Linked DNA regions of Homo sapiens. The protein of the gene in region 2 interacts with the protein of the main gene of each other region in a pairwise test. Each region holds a gene or a part of one and is shown on either strand. Other genes may lie near its edges.

What was found. Proteins that work in one complex are often made in the same cells at the same time.
Region 1: the proteins of APOD (region 2) and CD53 interact in binary tests that used the Homo sapiens proteins (3 or more experiments, as listed by UniProt).

What each region holds. Positions count from the first base shown.
Region 1 is NC_000001.11:110,879,648-110,883,147, forward strand, and holds part of CD53 (leukocyte surface antigen CD53), read left to right. Parts: intron 1-3,500. UniProt on the Homo sapiens protein: Structural component of specialized membrane microdomains known as tetraspanin-enriched microdomains (TERMs), which act as platforms for receptor clustering and signaling.
Region 2 is NC_000003.12:195,573,585-195,577,440, reverse strand, and holds part of APOD (apolipoprotein D precursor), read left to right. Parts: intron 1-3,469; coding exon 3,470-3,591; intron 3,592-3,856. UniProt on the Homo sapiens protein: APOD occurs in the macromolecular complex with lecithin-cholesterol acyltransferase. It is probably involved in the transport and binding of bilin. Appears to be able to transport a variety of ligands in a number of different contexts.

The sequences.
Region 1 (3,500 bases), on a different chromosome or scaffold from region 2:
TCTTATGTGGCTCCAGCCTAGCTTGTAATATTGGATCAGATAAGGCTGAAGATGAAGAACTGATAGAGGTTCTTTTTTTTTTAACTTAAAAAAATTTTAAAATAGAGACAGGGTCTCTCTATGTTGTTCAGGCTGGTCTTAAACTCCTAGGCTCAAGGGCTTCTCCCACCTCAGCTTCCCAAATGGCTGGGATTACAGGTGTGAGCCACCATGGCGAGCCTGATCGAGGTTCTTGAAGCCTCTATCCAACCTTAACCACTTCTAAGCTTGATTAAATTCAAGAGTAGATTACATGGTGCTGTTAGTACAGGTCAAAAAAAAGACAGGGATGGAATTAGAAATCCGCAGGTTCTACCAGCTCAAGCCCATTGGAGGAAACTAAAGAGCAAAGTTGATCCCTAACCTCCATGTTGAGTTGTGGAAGGTAGCCACAGTTAAGTGCAGTTTGGTCACGCAGGTTTCCTGGAAACTGATATTGGTGGCTTTTTGCATAGAACCATGAGTCATGCATCTAAGAGTCATAGACTTTGACTGTGGGAGGGGTGTCGGTTCCTCTAGATGGTAGTTGGAAGGGGTGGGAGGCTTAATCACTGCCCAGTAACAGTGAAAAGGGGAAGGGGAAACGGAGCAGCATTCTCTCTGGGGCCCTTATGGCATGTGGCAAAAGTAGTGACAATCTTCACCAGGTGAGAAGATTTTCTTACTCAATTTAGTATGAGTCTGGAGAGGTAGAAAGTGGGAGAGGAAGGAAGAAGAGGTTCTTCTTCCTGTCTGTGAAGGAAAGAATCAGTAGGAATGTCCCTAAGTTTGTGGGCACCTAGCCAGCTGGTGTTCTGTGGACAATCAGGTTACACGGGCCTGAACTAATTGTCACAGGATACCAGGATGTTGGGGCTGATGTGACTCTAGGAGGCATCTGGCTCAATTCCTTTCTGTTACTGATGGGTGAGTTAGTTATTTTCCTATGTCCAAAACATCAGTTTATTAGCAGACTGAAAATTCAAGCCCAAGGCTCCTGACTCTGCAGTGTCATGTTCATTCCACTACATCAGATAATTCTGAGGTAATGAGGCTTTGAGAATTCAAAGATGAATAGCATAGATCCTACCCTCAAGGAGCTCACATTCTAGTGAGGGAATAGTCACTTATAAAACAAAATGGTTAGTACAATGGCAGAGGTACACAGGTATTACAGATACTCCTTAGGGCAAGTGAGGGTTGGGTGTGAAGACTTAGACACAAACAGAGAGGACTTCCTGGAAAAGTGACACATCATTAGGATGATGAGTAACTAACCAGAATAAGAGGCCAGAAAGAAAAGAGAAAATTTCAGCAAAGAAACACATTACCAAAGTAAGGAAGGAAGCATTAAGACAAGGATTCAATATTGCTTTGCTAAATTTTAAAGTATAATACAGGGGGTGTTGCCATGAGTGTGGAGTGATGGACAGGAGCAAATTAGGAGGGGCCTTTGACGTAAGTGTACATGCATAAATCCATCACCACAGTCAAAACACTGAGCGTATGCATCACTCACCACAGATTGTTGTGGCCTTCTGTAATCCCTTTCTCTCACCCTTCCCTGCTCCCTCTCTACTCACCTCCTGCCCTCCCCCACCTTCATCCTCAGACAGTCATTGATCTGCTTTCTGTTGCTATAGATTAGTTTTCATTTTCTAAAATGTTATATAACTGGAATCATACAGAATGTACTCTTTTTTATTTAACCTCTTTCACTCACCATGATTATTTTTACATTCACCTGTGCTGTAGAGGGTAACAACAGTTCATTCTTTTTAATTGCTAAGTAGTTTCCATTGTAAAATTATACCACTATTTATTTATACATTCACTTGTTTATGGACATTTGGGTTGCTTCCAGTTTGGGCTATTACAAATAATACTACAAAACTATGAACCTTCCTGTACTAGTCCTAGTATGGACATATGCTTTCATTTCTCTTGGGTAAATACCTAGGAGTAGAATGGCTGGATCATATGATAAGTATATGTTTAACTTTGTACAAAACGAGCAAACTGCTTTTGAACATGGTTATACCATTTTACATTCCCACCAACAGTGTATAAGAGTTCCAGTTTCACTACATCCTCACCAACACTTGGTGTGGTCAGGTTTTGAAAACATTTTAGCCATTCTAGGAGATGTGGAGTGGTATCTTACCATGGTTTTAATTTGCATTTCCTTAATGAGTAATGAAGTAGAGAATTTTTTTCATGTCCTTATTTGCCATCCATATAGTATCTTCTTTGGTGAATTGTCTGTTCTGATCTTTTGCCCATTTTAAAAATTGGATTGTTTATTTTCTTACCATTGAGCTTCAAGAGTTGTTTTTATACTCTGGATACATGCCTTTTATCTCCTGTGTGATTTGGAAATATTTTGTCCCTTCTGTGCCTTGTCTTTTCATTCTCTTAACAGTGTCTTTTGAAGAGCAGAAGTTTTTAATTTTGAAGAAGTCCAATTTATCAACTTATTGTGCTTTTGGTGTCTTATCTGAGAACTCTTTGCATAACCAAGGTTGCAAATATTTCCTTCTGGAGAATTATAGTTTTGGATTTTACCTTTAGATCTATGATTCATCACTAGTTACGATTTCGTATGGAGAGAGGTATAAATGCAAGTTCATTTTTGCATATTAATAGACAATTGTTCCAGCACCATTTGTTGAAAAAAGTATTCTTCATTCTGTAATATATTAATTTTGTATTTTTTTTGAAAATCAGTTGTCCATATGCATATGGACTCTATTCTGTTCTCTTGATATATTTATTTAACACCAGTGCTATCCTGTCTTTATTGTTGTAGTTTTATAGAAAGCAATATAATTAGGTAGTGTTTGTACTCCAATTTTGTTCTTTATCAAACTCATTTTTACTATTCTAAGTCTTTTGCATTCCCAAATGAATTTTAGAATTAATTTCTTGAAGCCTACAAAAAATTCTGCTGTAATATTGATGGGGATTACAATCTATAGATAAATTTGGAAGAATTGACATCTTAAAAATATTGAATTCCTGGTAGATGGACGTGGTATATCTCTCCATTATTTGCATCTTTTCAATTTCTTTCAGCAATGTTTGTTTTTAAGTTTTCAGTGTACAATTCTTTCACAACTTTTGTCAGATTTATGCCTAAGTATTTCATATATGATGCTATTGTAAATGATACTTTTAAAAATACTTGATTTCTAATGGTTACTAGTGCATAGAATGCTATTATTTTTTGTGGATTGAATCTTGTTTCTAGCAACCTTGCTACACTTACTTGTTAGTTCTAGTAGTATTTTTGTAGATTTATTTAGATTTTCTACAAAGACATTCATGATATCTGTGAACAAAGCCAGTTTTACTTTTTTTTCTTTCCAGTTTGGATGCCATTCTTTTCATATTTCATTTGCACTGCCTAGAAACTCCAGTACAATGCCAAATAGAGTAGTTAAGAGTAAACAGACTTATTTTCCTCCTTATATAAGGGTAAG
Region 2 (3,856 bases):
ATACAGATTGCATTAAATCTGAAGATCAATTTGGGGAGTACTGCCATCTTAACAATATTAAGTCTTCTAACTTGTCAACATAGTGTATCTTTCCATTGAATTAGGTCATCTTTAATTTCTTTCAACAATACTTTGTAGTTTTCAGAGTATAAGTTTTATGTTTCTTTGGTTAAATTTATTCCCAAATATTTTATTCTTTTGATGTTATTGTAAATGGAATTTTCTTCTTTTTCTTTTCTTTTCTTTTTTTTTTTGAGACGGAGTCTCACTTTGTCACCCAGGGTGGAGTGCAGCATCACCATCTTGGCTCACTGCAACCTCCGCCTCCCGGGTTCAAGCAATTCTCCTGCCTCAGCCTCCCAAGTAGCTGGGACTACAGGTACACGCCACCACACCCAGCAAAGTTTTTTTGTATTTTAGTAAAGACGGGGTTTCACCATGTTGCCCAGGCTGGTCTCGAACTCCTGAGCTCAGGCAATCCATCCGCCTCGGCCTCCCATAGTGCTAGGATTACAGGTGTGAGCAAGCCACCGTGCCCGGCCTTTTAAATGGAATTTTCTTAATTTCATCTGCAAATTGTTCATTGCAAGTAGAGAAATATGTTTATATATGTATATATTTTTGTGTGTGTGTGACAGAGTCTTGCTCTGTCACCCAGGCTGGAGTGTAGTGGCACCATCTCAGCTCACTGCAACCTCTGCCTCCCAGGTTCAAGAGATTATCCTGCCTCAGCCTCCCGAGTAGCTGGTATTACAGTTGCGTGCCACCATGCCCGGCTAATTTTTAAATTTTTTATAGAGATGGGGCCTCGCCATGTTGGCTATGCTGGTCTTGAACTCCTGACCTCAAGTGATCCACCCGCCTCGGCCTCCCAAAGTCCTGGGATTACAGGCATGAGCCACTGCGTCTGGCTGAGAAATATATTTGATTTTTGAATATTAATCTTGTATCTTGTAACCTTGCTTAACTCATTAGATCCAATAGTTTTTGGTTTTGTCTCTGTTTTAGATTTCTTAGGATATTTTATATGTCATCTGCAAACAGATAGAGTTTTACCTCTTCTTTTCTAGGATTATTTTTCAATACTGACCAGAGATCTGAAAAGATTAAGAAGCCTTTGCAAAAATAATATGAGATCATAAGGAAGCTCTGAGTTTCCTCTTTTCTGAAAAATCATGCTTCCTTGGTTTTTACTATGGGGCACTAAACTCACTTTAACAGAAATAGAACAGATTTGAATGCACCATAGAAAATGGAGCTTCTTCCGAGAATGTCTATGAAACCAGTTAACCTCTAACCTTATTCTTTGGTACTTTAAATGAATGTTAAGTTCAGTGGCTTTAATTGAAAGCTGTGCTTTAATAAGTGAGTAGAACTTTATGGTCATGAATGTGGCATACATTTGAGCGGAAAGCCGTGGCTGAAGCAATACTCACCTGTGTGCAGCATCCTCTCTTTTCAAGTTCTGACTCTGAAGGTGAGCGCATCTCTTTTTGTTTTTAAATTTCTAGAATAGGCCAGGCGCGGTGGCTCACGCCTGTAATCCCAGCACTTTGGGAGGCCGAGGCAGGGGGATCACTAGGTCAGGAGATTGAGACCATCCTGGCCAACATGGTGAAACCCCTTCTCCAGTAAAAATACAAAAATTAGCCGGGCATGGTGGCACGTGCCTGTAATCCCAGCTACTCGGGAGGCTGAAGCAGGAGAATCACTTGCACCCGGGAGGCAGAGGTTGCAGTGAGCCCAGATTGCACTACTGCACTCCACTCTGGTGACATAGTGAGACTCCATCTCAAAAAAACAAAATTCTAATTAGTATTTTAACTAGATAAATATATTTACATTGTTCAAAATCCTAAAGGTGTAAAAGAATACACCACATAAAGTTTCCCTCCCACCTCTGTACCTCAGTTTCCCTCCCCAGTAGCAACTAGTAAAAACCATGTATTATGTAATTTTACAGATAATATATACATATACAAGCAAATACTTAATAACTGTGGTAAGCAGAAGAGTGGCTTCCAAAGGTGTCCACGCCCTAACCTTGTGAATGTTACTTTGCATGGGAAAAGGGCTTTTGCAAATGTGATCGAAGTTATGAGCCTTGAGATGGCCAGATTAGCCTTGATTATCCAGGGGAACTCAATCTAATCACATAAATCCTTAAAAGCAGAGAATCTTTCCCAGCTGTGATAAGAGAGAGAGGTTTGATGATGGCATAAGAGTCAGAGAGATGCAATGTGAGAAGGATCTGACTTCCTTTTGCTGGCTTTGAAAATAGAGGAAGCCTCAAGCCAAGGAATGTAGGCGGCCTGTAGAACTTGGAAAAGGCAAGGAAACTGATCCTCCCCTAGAGCTCCCAGAGGGAAACACAGCCAACACTTTGAGTTCAGCCCAGTGAGACCTGTCAGACTTCTGACTTACACAACTGCAAGATAATAAATCTGTGCTGTTTGAAGCTTGTGCTAATTTATTATAGCAGCAACAGAAAACCAACGTAATAAACATTTTCTCCATTTTTACACAAAAGGTGCCTTAATAGATACACTATTTTGTACCTGACTCTTTTGTCATTAAATATTAGAAATCACTGCATACCACTCTTTTGAAAGAGGAAGTAAAATTCCATTGTCTGGATATGCCATCGTTTACTCACCCAGCCCCCTACTAATGCTCACATAGGCTGTTTCCTATCTTGTATTATTACAAACGGTACTGTAATGAATAACTTTACACATACATCATTTCTTATATCAGGAGGATGCATTCCCAGAAGTGAAATTGCTGGGCCAAAGAGTATAATATGTATTTTTAGCTTTGCTAGATATTGCCAAACTGCCCTCCGCAGAGGTTGTAAACTGGTATGGTCTCCCTGCAACGCGTGCCAGGCAGCCTAGGAGGGCCTGGTTCCCTCGACCTTCCCCACACAGTGGCAGCTTCCTTTAAAGCTAACTGTATACACCTGAAGTCTGGACTGAGCGCAGGCCCCTAGAGAAAGCATGATACAGACCTTTCAAATCCCCACCACCTCTCCAAAGCCTTGATGACTAAATCCCTCCTCAGGGTCAGATGAGGAAAGTTCCGTGCGCTCTGGAGTCCTAGCTCCCCACAGCGAACACATCTGACTTTGCACAGGATTCAAAGATGACTTGTAGAATTGTGCACTGTTTCAGATGAAAGGTATTTCCCATCATCCCCTTTTTTTACAGAGTCTAGAATGTCACAGCGATTTTGGCTGAAGTGGGCCCTGAGAAGAGCCCTTTACTCAGCATTCACCCCCTGCCCGCACATCCCATCCTAGTCACAGATTCTCATTGCAATCAATCTCTTGCCCAGTTGCCACTGGGAACAATGAGGCCCATTTTGTCTGGCTTCCCCAGGACAGGGCTCTGCGTCTGCACGACAATGGGGAAGAAGTTGCAGGTCCCCAGAGAACCACAGGGTTTTGCTCTGCTTGTTGTCTCTGCAGTATCTCGGAAGATGGTACGAAATTGAGAAGATCCCAACAACCTTTGAGAATGGACGCTGCATCCAGGCCAACTACTCACTAATGGAAAACGGAAAGATCAAAGTGTTAAACCAGGAGTTGAGGTGAGTGGCTGTGGGCGTCCGGGGCCAGGCCTGCGGAGTGCTGATGCAGAGTGACTGGGTGTCCGGCAGCCTGGGTCAGGGAGGATGGGAACCTTGCTGGATCGGGACTGCCTGCTCCTAGCAGGAATTGAGAGGAAAGCGTTTGGCAGGCAAGGATGGCAAGGACTAGGATCCACTTATGCATTTCCATGACCACCTGCGGGGCACAAACTGACAGGGTTCCTGCACTCACTGCAAAATAGATACTCTGGTAGCAAAGAACATC